2 linked regions of the Homo sapiens genome follow. The protein of the gene in region 2 interacts with the protein of the main gene of each other region in a pairwise test. Each region holds a gene or a part of one and is shown on either strand. Other genes may lie near its edges.

Evidence for each region. Proteins that work in one complex are often made in the same cells at the same time.
Region 1: the proteins of WASHC3 (region 2) and C20orf202 interact in binary tests that used the Homo sapiens proteins (3 or more experiments, as listed by UniProt).

The regions. Positions count from the first base shown.
Region 1 is NC_000020.11:1,198,791-1,206,453, reverse strand, and holds the start of C20orf202 (uncharacterized protein C20orf202), read right to left. Parts: upstream 3,001-7,663; 5' UTR 2,869-3,000; coding exon 2,803-2,868; intron 1-2,802.
Region 2 is NC_000012.12:102,058,553-102,066,509, forward strand, and holds the start of WASHC3 (WASH complex subunit 3), read right to left. Parts: upstream 3,440-7,957; 5' UTR 3,411-3,439; coding exon 3,360-3,410; intron 2,795-3,359; coding exon 2,696-2,794; intron 1-2,695. UniProt on the Homo sapiens protein: Acts as a component of the WASH core complex that functions as a nucleation-promoting factor (NPF) at the surface of endosomes, where it recruits and activates the Arp2/3 complex to induce actin polymerization, playing a key role in the fission of tubules that serve as transport intermediates during endosome sorting.

The DNA of each region.
Region 1 (7,663 bases), on a different chromosome or scaffold from region 2:
TTAAAGCAATTTGCAACAATGTAAAATGGGGCTACTCTTCCCACTAAATATTTGCTTTGAAAAATATAGTTATTTTGAATAAGTAATGTTTTATTAACATATTATGAATTTGTTATTATTTTAGAATGCATTAGTAAATATATTAAAAATGTCTCAGCTTTGGCTTCTAATTCAGTCAGTATTGTTATATATAACTCACGTAAACAAAAGCTTTTTGGTGGCCTTAATAATTTTTTGGGGCATAAAGGGTTCCTAAGACCCAAAAGTTTGAGAACTGCTGCATTAGAACTCTCCTGTCATCTTCAGCCATCTCCATTCTTTCTCCCATTTTTTCCTGAGAATTTTTTCCCATACATTTTCTCTCTTTTTCTTTCTGTTTATTTATTTATTTATTTATTTTTGAGGCGGGGTCTCACTGTGTTGCCCAGGCTGGAGTGCAGTGGTGCAATAACGGCTCACTGCAGCCTCGAGCTCCTGGGTTCAACTGATCCTCCCACCTCAGCCTCCCGAGTAGCTGGGACTCCAGGTGCACACCACCATGCCCGGCTATTTTTTGTAGAGGCAATGTCTTGCCATGTTGCCCAGGCTGGTCTCAGACTCCTGGGCTCACGCGATCCTCTCAACTCAGCTCCCAAAGTTCGCTTTCTCTTTAAAAATGTTAAAATTCTATTTTTTGACTAAGTAATTCTTAACACATGATAGAAAATTTAAAAGCTACAAAAGGACATATATTTAAAAGTCTCTCCCACCCACCTCACTTTATCCCTCAACTCAAGCGTCCTTCTCCAGAGGCAGCCACTGCAAATGCTTCTGTTTTTCCTTCCAAAGCTGGTCGGGGCAACACATGGTTAGATATACAGATTCTCAGCCTCTCTCTTTCTCTGTCTCTCTTTGCAAGAGATACTTATGAACATTATTTCCCCACTAAAAATAGTGTTTTCATTTTTGTGACAAGCTGATTACAAGTAAGAAGACCAAGTCTGCATCCTCTACTCAAGCATGAGTAACACTGCCAAGAGAATATGTAGCTAGAAAGAGAGATGTGAGGCCAGGCCCAGTGGCTCCCACCTGTAATCCCAGCACTTTGAGAGGCCGAGGTGGGCAGATTGCCTGAGGTCAGGAGTTCAAGACCAGCCTGGCCAACATGGTGAAACCCGGTCTCTACTAAAAATACAAAAAAATTAGCCAGCCGTGGTGGCATGCGCCTGTAATCCCAGCTACTAGGGAGGCCGAGGCAGGGGAATCACTTGAACCCAGGAGGCGGAGGTTGTAGTGAGCCGAGATCGTGCCACTACACTCCAGCCTGGGCGACAGAGTGAGGCTTCATCTCAAAAAAAAAAAAAAAAAGGAAAGACGTGAAGCAAAGGTGTAGTCGGCCTCCCTCAGAACACTGGGACGACTCAGGCTGCAGAGCGAGTGGTCCTGGGCCCATTTTTTCCTAATTCCTCAGAAAACATTCACTCTGTGTTTTCTCGATTTTAGGGTTTTCCTCCTGCACATATTTCTGGGTATGCGCCTACAAGACCACAGTGGGGTTCCCAGCACGGAGGTGGTGATGAGGCATCCAGGCACCCACAGTTTCAGGGAGCATAAGGAAGACAGCTGCCCAGTGCTGGATGCCTGCTGACTGTGGGAAGCTGCAGTCCCTGCTGCTGGAATTCCCTGGTCCCATGAGAAACCCTACTGGGTCAGCCCTTCCTCTGGGGTGATGACAGGGTTGGGTCCCAGCTGGCCTGTTGCCTGGCAACCCAGAAAGGTCATTTTTGGACAATCCTGTCTGTCTCTCCCCAGGATGAGAGGTGTGTATATTGAGAAACAAACCTCTTCTGAGGTTCCCTGAGCTGCCTCCTCTCTCCTGGCTGGTGTCCCCACACACTTGGGGGCACCCCTCTTTTTTCGGACTTGGAGAAAATACCATAATGAAAGGCATAAGCCTGGCTTCCTGAGCAGCAACCACAGGACCAAGTAACATAACATCGGGTCAGGAGAGTTAGTGCTCCATGGGGGAGGCCCTTGCCAATGGGAAATGAGAGACAGGAACGAGCTGGGCAGATGAATTTCCTCTCGTTCTCTCTCCCCCAATGTGCAGTTCCTCCTTCAACCCCTGCAGAGCATCTCAGCTGCTGAGACACCCACTGGGCCTCCTTAAGGCAACTTCTGAAGCCGTAGGCTGCTTGGTAATACAATGTCTGGCGTAATTGCCTGGCATAGCATTGGCCTCTGCTGCCACACCCTATGTTCCTCCCTATCACCACCCTTGGCTTGTACTTCCAAATAAAGTGCTAGTTTCTCAATCCTTGTCCAAGCCTCTGCTTTCTAGGGGACCCAGGCTAAGACATTGGGTGTACGCATGTCCATCTGGGTCAGGGTTATAATAGCCAGCACCACGGTGCCAAGTATTCATTAAGAGGATTACAAGCATCTCTTCAGTGAATCCTTACAATACCCCATATGATATTGGTACTATTGTTATTCCCATTTTGTGATAAGGAAACTGAGGCTCAAAGAGATAAATCCCCTGCTAGAGCCACACAGAGGACTCAGCACACACGGAGGACTCAGTGTCATTCTAAAACCAGTCTGGCCAGCACCACACCCAGCACCTCCCATATAGGCCACGACCTACTTATCCCTGAACCTGAGATCACAATTGTGCATTGTGTGGTAGGTCCCAGAGGGGAGACTGCAGGGTCCATACCGTAGCCTGCAGCCTCTGCCCCAGGGGGGACCCGGGAAGGAAAACCAGAGATCTTTGGAAAATATGTAGTCGGGGCATCAAGGAAAAGCAATGCAAAACCTTACCAGCTCCTTTCTCAGCCACTCCAAGGTCTGCCCAAGACTCGGGCTGGGCTCTTCTGCTATTTTCATCTCAGTGTTCTTAGGAGTGACCTTGACACTGACCTGGTTCTGGGCCCGAGGGATCTTTGACTTGTACATTCCCCCAACTCTTTCAGACTGGCAGCAGGTTCTGGCCAAATCACTGAAGATGGAGTTAATGAGAGCAGGAAGTAGCTCACATTGAAAAATGTAATCTGGCTTTTTTTTTTTTTTTAAAGGGCTTTAGTGCTCTGAACAGAACAAGGAGGAAGGGAGGGAGACCATTATGGGTCCGAGTACCTTGGAGCCTGCTGTTCCAGAAGCCAAGAATATGTGATGCCAACAGGATCACAGAGAATGCAAAGCTTTAAATGGCAACAATATGGTTATTATGAAAATAGGCACTCTTTTCTAAGGGTTTGCTTTGTGCTTTACATATAAACTATGTATATGTCTCATTTGGCATATACCTCCACGGGTGTCCCAAGTCCCTGTCCTCATTTACTTATCTATAGAGTCCAGATAAAGGAAATGCTCACTTTCCAAGTTTCCTTGTTTCTGGAATCCCCATGTGACCCATTTCCAGCAAATGAGATCAAAGCAGCAATTTGCTGTTAGGCTTCCAGAAAAACTTTTACCTTCCTAACAAAAGGGAAAATGTCACTGCTGCTTCCCTTTTACTCCTACTTTCTCCCTTTTCCTTCTGCCTTGAATGTGGATGTAATGTCTGGAGCTATGGTAACTGTCTTGCGACCATAAGACAAAGCCCAAGAAAATCACAGAGCCATTAGAAATCATTGCACCCCTGACTCGGCAACAGCATCTATATGAGAAAACAGACCCGATGTCTAATGGAACACTCTGCTACTTGCAGGCAAACACAGTCCTGACACACCATTTATTCTTCCCATTGTTATAGGAAAGGGGTCCCAACCCAGACCCCAAGGGAGGGTTCTTGGATCTCATGCAATAAAGAATTCAGGGGGAGTCCATACAGTAAAATGAAAGCAAGTTTATTAGGAAAGTAAAGGAATAAAAGAATGGCTACTCCATAGATAAAGCAGCCTTGAGGGCTGCTGGTTGCCCATTTTTATGGTTATTTTTTGATGATCTGCTAAACAAGGGGTAGATTATTCATGTCTCCCCTTTTTAGACCATATAGGGTAACTTCCTGATGTTGTCATCGCATCTGTAACCTGTCATGGCGCTGGTGGGAGTGTAGCAGTGAGGATGACCAGAGGTCACTCTTGTGGCCATCTTGGTTTTGGTGAGATTTAGCCACTTTCTTTACTGCAATTGTTTTATCAGCAAGGTCTTTACGACCTGTATCTTGTGTTGATCTCATCCTGTGACTTAGAATGCCTTAACCATCTGGGAATGCAGCCCAGTGGGTCTCATCCTCATTTTACCCAGCCCCTATTCAAGATGGAGTTACTCTGGTTCAAATGCCACTGACATCATCACACCGTGAAGCAGGTATTCAATTCTCTCTTTCGCTAAACACTTATTGAATGTCTACTGTGTGCCGAGTTCTGCTCTAGACACTGGGGTTATCAACCAAAATCAGAGAAACAAAGGCCCTGCTTTCCTGGAGCTGACATCCTAGTAGTCATTGGAAACAAACAATCAAATTAATGCTACGATGAAAATATGTAGACTCTATTCTCACATAGGTCTTTTAAAATATAAATTTATTGGGCAGGCGTGATGGCTCACGCCTGTAATACCAGCACTTTGGGAGGCCGAGGTGGGCGGATCACCTGAGGCCAGGAGTTCGAGACCAGCCTGGCTAAACATGGTGAAACCCCGTCTCTACTAAAAATACAAAAATTAGCCGGGTGTGGTTGTGGGCGCCTGTAATCCCAGCTACTCAGGAGGCTGGAGCAGGAGAATTTCTTGAACCCAGGAGGCGGAGGTTGCAGTGAACTGAGACTGCAAATGTATATATATAAATTTATTCTATTCACATGCACTAGAAACTCCAAACCAAGAATTAGCATAGTGACCCCAGATAAAGATGTGAAATGACTGGCAAAGCAAACTCAGCCGAGTTTAGGGAAACTTGCCCTCAATCTGGCTACACAAAATATCCTCAGATAGAGCTCCCCTGAAGATGAACTCATATAAGAACACACAAGGAAGCCATTCACCATAAATGAGAGTCAACAGACACCATTCACCCCCTTCCCCCAAGAACTTCAGATGAAGATAATTAAAAGTATTTTGAGGCCAGGTATGGTGGCTCACACCTGTAATCCGAACATTTTGAGAGGCCAATGCAGGAGGACTACTTGAGGCCAGGAGTTTGAGACCAGCCTGGGCAACATAGCAAGACCCCTTATCTAAACAAAATAAAATACAATAATTAGCCAGGTGTGGTGGCACGTGCCTGTAGTACCAGCTTCTCAGGAGGCTGAGTCAGAAGGATTGCTTGAGCCCAAGAGGTCGAGGCCGTAGTGAGCTTTGATTGCACCACTGCACTCCACCCTGTCTCAAAAGAAAAGTATTTTGAAAAGAAGAGGCATACAAGAAGGAATCAAAATCATACAAAAAAAGAGACACTTTTTTCTTTTTCTTTTTTTGAGAAGGAGTTTCACTCTTGTCACCCAGGCTGGAGTGCAATGGTGCAATCTCGGCTCACTGCAGCCTCTGCCTCCCAGGTTCAAGCAATTCTCCTGCCTCAGCCTCTCAAGTAGCTGGAATTATAGGCACCTACCACCACATCCAATTAATTTTTGTATTTTTAGTAGAGATGGGGTGTCACCATGTTGGCCAGGCTGATCTCAAACTCCTGACCTCAAGTGATCCACCTGCCTCAGCCTCCCAAAGTGCTGGGATTGCAGGCATGAGCCACTGTGCCCGGCCAAAAGAGACACTTTTTAACAGGCAGATTTGAAAAAGAATGCAATAGAATTTATAGAACTTAAAATTACAGTAAGTGTTTATAAGTTAAAGAGAAAAGAGTGTATATTTATTGTAGCACCAGAAGACAGAGCTAGTGAGGTAGGAGATCAGCAAGACTTGTTCTCCGAGCACTGGTTACAATCCCAGTCACAACTCCACTGATCAAAACAGGATCTGTTCAAACAGGATGCCATGAAGTAGGCAGCCAAAACCAACTAAGATCGAGATGGCAATGAAAGCAACCTCTAGTTGCCCTCATTCCTCACGGAATGTTAATTATAATTCATTAGGATGCTAAAAGACACTCCCACCGGTACCACGACAGTTTACAAATGCCATGACAATGCCTGAAACTTACCTTACATGGTTTAAAAGGGGAGGAACCCCCAGTCTGGGGAATACCCCACCTCTTTTCTTGAAAATTTGTGAATAATCTACCCTTTATTTAGCATATAATAAAAAGTAGCTATTAATATAGTCAGCCAGCAATCCACAAAGGCTACTGTGCTGATGGGGTAGCCCTGCTCTGTCTATGGAGCAGTCATTTCCTGTACTCTGTTGCTCTAATAAACTTGCTTTGCTTTCACTTTACTTTGTTGGCTCACTCTTGAATTCTTTCCTTTATGAAGCCAAGAACCTCCCCTGACTGAGCCCCAATTTTAGGGTTCACCTGCATCACTACAGCGGTAGCTGTACATCACTACCTTTGTCCTATACAGTGGGTATAGGACAAAGGGAAGCAGACTGGGATTCAGTAGGAGGAAGGTGTTGTTTAGAATTTTTCCAAGCAGTGGGTGCTCAGTCAATGGAGGGCAGAAGCATAGCCCAGATGATCAAAGAGACTGGAGTAGGGGCTCTACTGGCTTGGAGATGGGACCTGGAGTTCCTTCCAAGTATAAGACTGACGAGGCAGGAAAAGGGATATTGTAATAAGGAGCCAGGATATCTGGGTTCTAACTCCAGCTCTGCCAAACTGTCTGTGTGAACTTGGGCCTCGTCTTTTCCCTCTTAGGCATAATGAGGCTCAAAATAGTTACTAAATCGAGTTGTAAGGAATGTCACATTTCTTATATCCTGGCGTTTACAGCTTGAGAATCGTTCTGACTGCCACATGCAGACAAAGTCTTATGTGCTATTTCTCGTAGTTCAGCTGTTACTTTTCAGAACCCAAGAGAATCAGAGAAACTCCTTTCTGCCACATTTATACCCCTTCTGAACACAAGGGGCCAGAGATGATTCCTTCAAACAGGCCACCAGGCTTTGTCACATGCCCTGTAATCATGGGACAACTGCCTGGAGCCGAGATGAGTGCCCCAGCCCAAAGCAGCCATCTACAGACTGGACAGGAGAGTGATCATTGGCTCATGGGTGACTGGTTTTTGAGCAGCTGCATTTTGGGTGGTGACCAGAGGATCCAATCAGATCTTCCCTCAGACATGTTGAATTTGCCACAGATTGGGAGGTTGGATTACCACTAGAACACTGTGTACCAAATGTCTCTAAAACTCCATACTTTCAAACAACAATCATTTATTATTGCTCATGTTTGCAGATCTGCAGCTCTGAGTCTGCTCCACAGATCTCCTGTCCTTCTCCTGGAATCACAGGGCTGCTGGGGCACATTCTCTTGGCAAAGGAGAAGAGAGCAAGTGGAACCATGGGAAGCCTCTTGAGGCTTAGCTCAGAACTGTCACACTGTTGCTTTTGCCATGTGCCATTGGGCAAAGTTAGTCACATGGCCAAGCCCAAAGCTAAGGGGCAAGGATGTATGCTCCGCTACAAAGAGATCCTGGCAAGTGTGTGGACTTATGGAGGGATGATGAAGTGAGACTCACAATTCTGTGCCGGAAGACAGCACTGCGTGGAAGTGGGGCCACAGGCCTGGAGGTGCCCAGAGGGAAGGTGGCAAGTGGAGACCATGAGGTGGCAAGAGCAGGAGGCC
Region 2 (7,957 bases):
ATATTTGGAAACCATATATGTGATGAAGGGAACCTCTGTACACTGTTGGTGGGAATGTAAATTAGTACAGCTATTATAGAAAATAGTACAGAGGTTCCACAAAAAATTAAAAATAGAACTACTATATGATCCAGCAATCCCACTTCTGGGTATATATCCAAAGGATGTAAAATTAGTACATTCAAGAGACATCTGTACTTGAAAGTTCACTGCAACATTATTCACAATAGCCAAGATACGGAATCAAAAGTGTCCATCAATGGATGAATGGATTAAAAAAAGTGGTATATATACACAATGGAATACTATTTAGCCTTAAAAAAGAATGAAATCCTGTCATTTGTGACAACATAAATGAACTGGAAGACATTGTGTTAAATGAAATAAGCCAGTCAAACAGAGACAGATACTGAATGATCTCACTTATATATGGAGGATAAAAAAGTACAACTCATAGAAATATTGAGTAGAATGGTGGTTAGCAGGGGCTTGGGGTTAAGAGGATTGGGGAGATGCGGTTAAAGGATACAAAATTTCAGTTAGGCAGGAGGAATAAGTTCAAGAGATCTCCTACATGTCATGGTGACTGCTGTTAATAACAATATATTGTATTGAAAATTGCTAAGAGAGGCGATTTTAAGTGTGCTCACCACAAAAAAAAGTAAGTACGTGAGGCATTGCTTATGTTAAATAGCTTGGTTTGGCCATTCCACAATGTATTCATATATCAAAACATCATGTTGTACATCATAAAAATACAATTTTTACCTGTCAATTTAAATAAAGAAATAAGATTTTTGAAAAAGGACAAAAGGCAATAGACTACCTTTAAACTTCATGAGGTTTTGATGAACAAACTTTTCTCTAGAGTTCAAAGAAGTACTAGAATACAGATACAGCCAGAACAGCTGCAGAGAAGTTGAGACAGGAACAGGAGGAGGTTAAAGAGTGACTCATGAGGCTTTGATCATAATCTATCAATAAATGAGATGACTATTGTTTTCTTTGATCTAGTTGTCAGTAAACAGCTCTCATTCAAGAACCATTAGGCACTACAAAGGTGAAGGGCTATCCCTGTTTCAGGACAGCTCAAACAAGTTGCTTTCATAGGTGTGTTTACTTGTTGCTTTGTTCTTTATTTTTCAGCTTGATGATAAGGGCTATGGGGATAAGAGTATTTGCTTCTTTCTGCTAGTAATCCTGGGACAGTCCCTTTCCAGATACTTCTCCATCTTGCCCTGGTATAAAAATCGAAGGGTGAAAACCTTGGCTTACTGGTTTTTATTCAGTCAATTTTATATCCTAAATTATTTAGAGAGATAGTAGGAACGAAATAAAACTGACTGGAAGCAAGCACCTAGTTTCTGGCCATTAACATATAAAACTAAATTGAATTAAGCCCCTTACTCTACCAATTACTATATTTTACTTTGTCTTAGAAGGCAGAAGAAATGTTGATAATTAGACAAAACAATAACTGGAATTTCATACAAGTAAAAAATAGTTTTCCCATCTCCATGCAATTTTTATTAATAGTAGTAACACACTTAACAAAAACTCTAATTGCTAAGGCTATACCTTACATAAGACAGAATGTTCAACAGACTTACTTGTGAATATCTAAGTCCCATAATTTACTTTGCTCTTTCCTTAAATGCAATTTCAACCCATGGTTCCCATTGTCTTCCCCATCCTCTTTTGGCTTTTTAAAAGACAGGGATTCCCTGGATCCTGGATCTAGTACCTAATCCTCTTTTTTAAAACAAAAACAAAAACAAAACACTGAGTTTCTCTGTTGTCCAGTCTTGTCTCAAATTCCCGGGCGCAAGTGATCCTCCTGCCTCTGCCTCCCGAGTAGCTGGGATTACAGGTGCGCACTGCTGTGCCAGTTCTGGTACCTAATCCCTAGTTGGGTACTTAATCCTTACATCACAAGTCATTTGCAGAAAATATTTTCATTTCTATAATCATATTTGATGCCAAAGTTATGTTTCTAGGCTATCTCCTCTAGCCATCTTTTAGATCCAGAATGTAAAATAAATTTAAACAATGTGGTTTTGGGGTACGGGAACGAATGACAAATTGCAAAATAAAAACTGTTTTCAACTGTGAAATTTTAGAAGCCGGGCGCGGTGGCTCACGCCTGTAATCCCAGCACTTTGGGAGGCCGAGGCTAGTGGATCGCCCAAGGTCAGGAATTCGAGACCAGCTTGATCAACATGTTGGAACCCCGTTTCTACTAAATATAAAAAATTAGCCAGGCATGGTGGCGCATGCCTGTAATCCCAGCTACTCAGGAGGCTGAGGCAGGAGAATCGCTTGAACCCGGGAGGTGGAGGTTGCAGTGAGCCGAGATCGCGCCACTGCACTGTAGCTTGGGTGACAGAGTGAGACCCTGTCTCACAAAAAAAAAAAAAAAAAAAAAAAAAATTAGATTTCCTATTGTTCCCTTTAATCGCAATAAGCCTGACTGACCTATCTCACAGGGACCTCTAGAACACTAACTCAGTAGAGGAGGGGTGCAGGATTGATTTTAACAGAGTAAAAGAGAACCTAAGATGTGTTAACACAATTGGGTGATGAGAGGTCACGGTACATGAATAAAGACTGTAATTCTTGTTTTACTCCATTTGTCAGTCTCAGCAGTGAAAGGTGATTTCCAGGCGACTCTATAAACCAGTATCACCGGACCTACCTCCTCACAAACTGTAGAAAAGCGGTTGAGGAACTGTACAGTGTGCACCACAAATTGGTTTAGAAAAGCCACCGTTCTTTTCTGTTGAATAGCTGGCACCTGTGTTACGTAAAAACAAACATGGTTCATACAGGAGGAACGTACACAGTGCAAATCTTTTCATATTTGGACATAATCACGAGGCACTTTGCTGTGTGATATGAATTTCTTGAAGGACTGGGAATAGTCATTAACTTGTTTCCTAAGCTGTGGGTGGGGTGTCCGAAGATGACAGAGGTGCACAAAAGTTTGAGAACAGGCTCTAGACTCACTGGTACGAATTTTGGCAGGCAAAAAGCACCACACATAAACACACACAAAATCTTGGGGGCTGAATAAGAGGTAGGGCTAGCTATCGCAACCGGCGTGTGTCGCCGGCGGCAGAGAGACAAGCGAGATGGGAAGCGACAGTTGGGAGATGCACACCGTCTCCTTAATCAGCTCAGGAGGGACCCCATTTCAAGGTGGACTGTGGGGCTCTCCCTCCTGAGGCCCCACAGGCCTGTCACAAGGGCCCGAGGCCGTGACAGGGTGGGGACTCGGAAGGTGGGTGTCTCCCCGGAAAGCTGCGTCTTCCCCATCCTCCTCCCGGCTCGTCGGGAGTCTAGCACCGTCTTTTACAAACCTTGGTCAGGTCTATGCCTGACCCCATGAGAGGAAGCCCGTCCTCATCCATCTCCTCAGCGGGCGGTGGACCCCGAGTTCACCCACAAACCCCTCCCAGATGGGGCCCGCCCAACCCGGTAATCACGTCTCAACTTTCCCCCCAAGTGCCCGCCTCCGGGGCCCTTCCCGCCGGAAGAAAGCTTCTCCGCTCACTAATCACTCGGCGGCTTCCGGAGAGCCCGCCTCCTCGCTCGGCATTCTGGGATTGGTAGTTTTAGTCCAGATTGTGACGTCAATTTCGGGGTGGCGCGCGGTGGTGCAAGGATGCAGTTAGAGCACTGAAATCTTAGAAAGGAGGCAACAAAACAAAACAAAAAAACAAAGCCAGAAGTTGCGTCCTTTTGAGGTTATCCCTACTTAGTCCTGTCTGTTATATAATAACTCCGTCATTCCTTGAGCAACAATTTTTTTTTTGTTGTTGTTAATCCTAAGTGCCATATACTCTGCTAGGCTTTTACTGGGAAAACAAAGATTGAGTTTGATTGCTGCACGGGAGAGGTTTATGCCCTGAAGAATGAGAAATAAGACCTACTTCCAAAGCGTGTGTGTGTGTATACACACAAGTTCTCGCTATTTCCCCAGGCTGGTCTCGAACTCCTGGCCTCAAGCGATTCTCCTGCCTCAGCCTCACACGATTCTCCTGCCTCAGCCTCACAGAGTGCTGGGATTACAGGCGTGAGCCAACGCGCCTGGTCTTCCAAAGGTTTTTAAAACATGAAATAAAATGTCAACTACTAGATGTGAGGCACAAACCTACGGAAGTGACTGCCACTTACAGGGAGCATCAAAAAGATGAAGACCAAGACTGCAGTGGGCAGTTTTGTTTTAAAGATGGGGGGTCTCGCTTTGTTACCCAGTCTGGCGTGCAGTGAGGATCATAGCTCACCTTAGTCTCAAACCCTTTGGCTCAAATGATCCTCATGCCTTGGCCTCCCTAAGTGCTGGGATTATAGGTGTGAGCCACTGGCACCTGGCCTGTTGGTTTGGTTGAAGCAAATAATCCCATAAATGGAGAATGGTAGGAAATGAGGTAAGAGTGTTACTGGTGGAGGGTGTCCAGGTTCTTTTGAACAAAGAATTGGACAAAACGCACAAATCAAGGAGAGAATGAACCAACAAAAGCAAAGATTCATTGAAAACCAAAGTACGCTCCACAGTGTACTGGATACAGAATCTTCTTAGGTCCAAATACCCACTAGAGATTTCCCATTGGACACTGGTGTTCTCCTCATGCAAATGAAGTGGTGGCCCACAATCAGTCTGATTGGTTATGGAAAGCAACCAATCAGAGGCTGAAGTAAAATGACAAAGGTCATACTCCTATACAAACATCTGATTGGTTGTGGAAAGCAACCAATCATTGGCTAAAGTGATGTTACTTAGTTGCACTTCTATGCAAAGGAAGATTTGGCCCGCAATCAGTCTGATTGGTTGAGGTACTTTCAATTTCCATCTGCCTGTCAGAAAAGGTGGGGATTTGCAAAGGGAGTAGCCGCTGGTCCTTTTGTTACTTAGGTGTGGAAATTTGGGGTTTACCTTTTGATTTAGTTCTAGGAAGTCAGCGTGAATCGGCGTTAGGTTCCCTGCCTCCAGACCCTATTCTGCCTCAGGAGACGTAGCCAGAAAATTTTCGTTTAAGGGCCTTTTATGCCAGATTTGATACTATAGTCCATGTTTATCTAATGTGATTCATAGGCCATCTGTAGCAATTATTTGGGTGTGGGTGGTGTTTCTTAAAGTTGCACGTTGCCCAGCTTAACCTTAGCGTGATCACCTTCTCCTGATTGAACTTTCTTAATTTTTCTTTCAGGAAGGCAGATCTTCTCTGGTTTTCTTTGTATCACTATGGTCATTTCCTTTCAGTTTCTTTTGCTGGTTGCTTCTTATGTCCCCAATCTCTAGAGTTTCTCACATTTATATATCTAACCCAGACCTTACATTGGAAGCCAGTATAGCTGAAGCAGAGTGAGCAAGGTGGGGAACTGAAGGACATGATGGCTAAAAGTTATGTGGAGACCTGATCATGCAGAGCTTTATGGGACATCATAAGGACTTTGGCTTTCACTCTGGGTATGATGGGAAGTCATGGAAAGATCTAGAGCAGAGAAATGATGGGAGCTACAGAAGAGCTTTTAAGCAGGGGGTGGCATGATCAGAATTGCATTTCGGGACATTCTGTTTGGTACAAGGTAATGAATGTGACTTGAGGGTAGGTGGCTGAACCTGGAAATGTTGCATAGGTCTAACAGTCACTCTTTACTCCATCCTCCTTTACATCTAGTCATTCATCAAATCTTACCTCTTCTACTTCCTAAGTAGTTCTTGAATCAGTCTGTAACTCTCCATCCTTACTGCCATATCTCAAGTTCTGTACAACACACTTTTGTGCCTGGGTTACTGCAATAGCCTCTTCCTGCCTCCATTTTGTGTCTCTCCAAGCTACTCCACACATTGTAGCCATAGTGATTTTTAAAAAGACAAATCTGATTATATTACTCAGGATATAATTTTGTTCCCCATCTCCCTCAGATACTATGCTCACAGGTCCTCTCTGTGGCTCTTGGCCACTTCTTTAACCTTACCTCTCACTGTTATAACTTTCTCCTTAGCCCCAAATAACTTCTTTCAATTCCTGGAATTGCTTGCTGTGTGTGGGTCTTTCAAGATGTTGTCTTCCCTCTGCCTGGAACAATCTCCCCTGCTTCCCAACAACCCCTGCCTGGCTAACTCCTACTCATTCTTCACATATCTTCTCTCCTTTATCCTTGGTTTTCAAGTTTGAATATAATGTGCGTGGGGTATGGGTATGGTTTTCTTTGTATTTATCCTGCTTGTAGTTTGCTGAGCTGCTCAGATCTGTGGGTTGGTGTTCTAAATCAAATTTGGAAGAAAGATTTTTGGCCATTAATTCTTCAAAAAATGTTTTTGTCATTTTTCTCTTTTTCTGGGACTTCAAAAATACTTGTATGTTAGACTGCTTGATTTTGCCCATAGATCACGGTGCTCTGCTCATTTCCCCCCAATCATTTTCTTTTCTCCCTGTGTTTCAGTGTGGATAATTCTTACAAACCTATCTTCAAGTATTTTCTAGTTTCCAATTTAACTATTTTCTAGTTTCCAATTTAGTTCCAGAACTCATCTAATAAGTTGATTTCAGATGTATTTTTTTCTAAAAATCTGTTTTTTAGAGTTTGTTTTTCTCTTGAAATTCCCTTCATTCATCTTTTCCTCTATATTAAAAAAACCAAATTTATAAGTTTTTAAAAAGTCCTTATCTAATAATGCCAATTTCTGGTTCATCTATGTGCCTGGTTCTATTGACAACTTTTTCCTAATTATGGGTTATGTTTCCTGCTTTTTAGCATGTCTTATAATTTTTAATTTTATTATGGACATTGTGAAAAAAAGAACAAAGTTCAGTGAGAAATGGAACATTCAGATTCATTCACAATTTGAATTGAGCTGATGCTGGGCTGCAGCTTTAGATTAAGTTTACCTGCAGTTAATTCAATTCAACCTCCTGCAAAGGACTGAGCTCTTGGATCTTGTCTGTGTTAGAGAGGGATGGGCCATAGTTTCAGATCATTTGGTTCACCTTCGGATTCAGCTTCAGCAGGGCTCAGGAATCCAAGCACCATAAGAATGTGCAAGATTTAGTGAATTCTACTTACCGAAAACATTTCCTCCATTACTGCTTTCTTAGCAATCTTAGGGGTAGGGTGTAGGCCCAAGTGATTTATTTTCGTGATTGAGGTCCTTCCAGACCCAAGTCTGTCTCACCAGCTTGTAGCAAAGTCTTAGCCACTTTCTCCTTAACTCTGCAAAGTCTCCTAGAGTGTTGCAGGCTTGTTCTTCCATCTACTTGTATCCAGACCACGCCCTTCTCCCTGGGCATGGCAATGCCACAGCTCTCTGCTCAACTATGTTCCTCCAAACATAGGCATGACTATAGAATTTATTTCATTAAGGTCTTACATACATGGCTTTTCAACAGCCCCATAAAAAGTATGATTTTTATCTGGTTATTTCTTATTACCACTAAATAAAAGGCTTTCATGCATCTTTCTGTATTCGAACTAGTAGCAGAAGTCTTAACATTCCATCCTTAGAGCTTTCCCAAAGCCACACAGATTAGATTAACTGTTCTTACATGCTTCCATAGCATTCTCTGCTTAACTCTATCTTAGCACATATAATTGCCTGTTTGCTTGAAAGCCTACTATATTACCAATTTAGGGCAGAGTCTCTGTTAGTTCACCATTAAGGTCCTAGCCCAATGTTTGTCCTATAGTAAACACTAAGTATCTTCTGAGTGACATTTGGGCTTAATGAATCTTGTACTTCCACATCTTACTTGATATTTCATTAACCTTTGATTTAGGTGGGACTCATAACTCTGGGTACTCAATCAGTCTCCCTGAGCAGAATTCCCCACTGGTCAGCCTAGCCTTCTTCTCTAGAGCCAAGACAGGCTCCCAGCCAGGAGAAAAATTAAGACAAACCAACACAGCAACTTCATGGTTATAGTTATGTATAAGTAGCAGGCATTTATATATG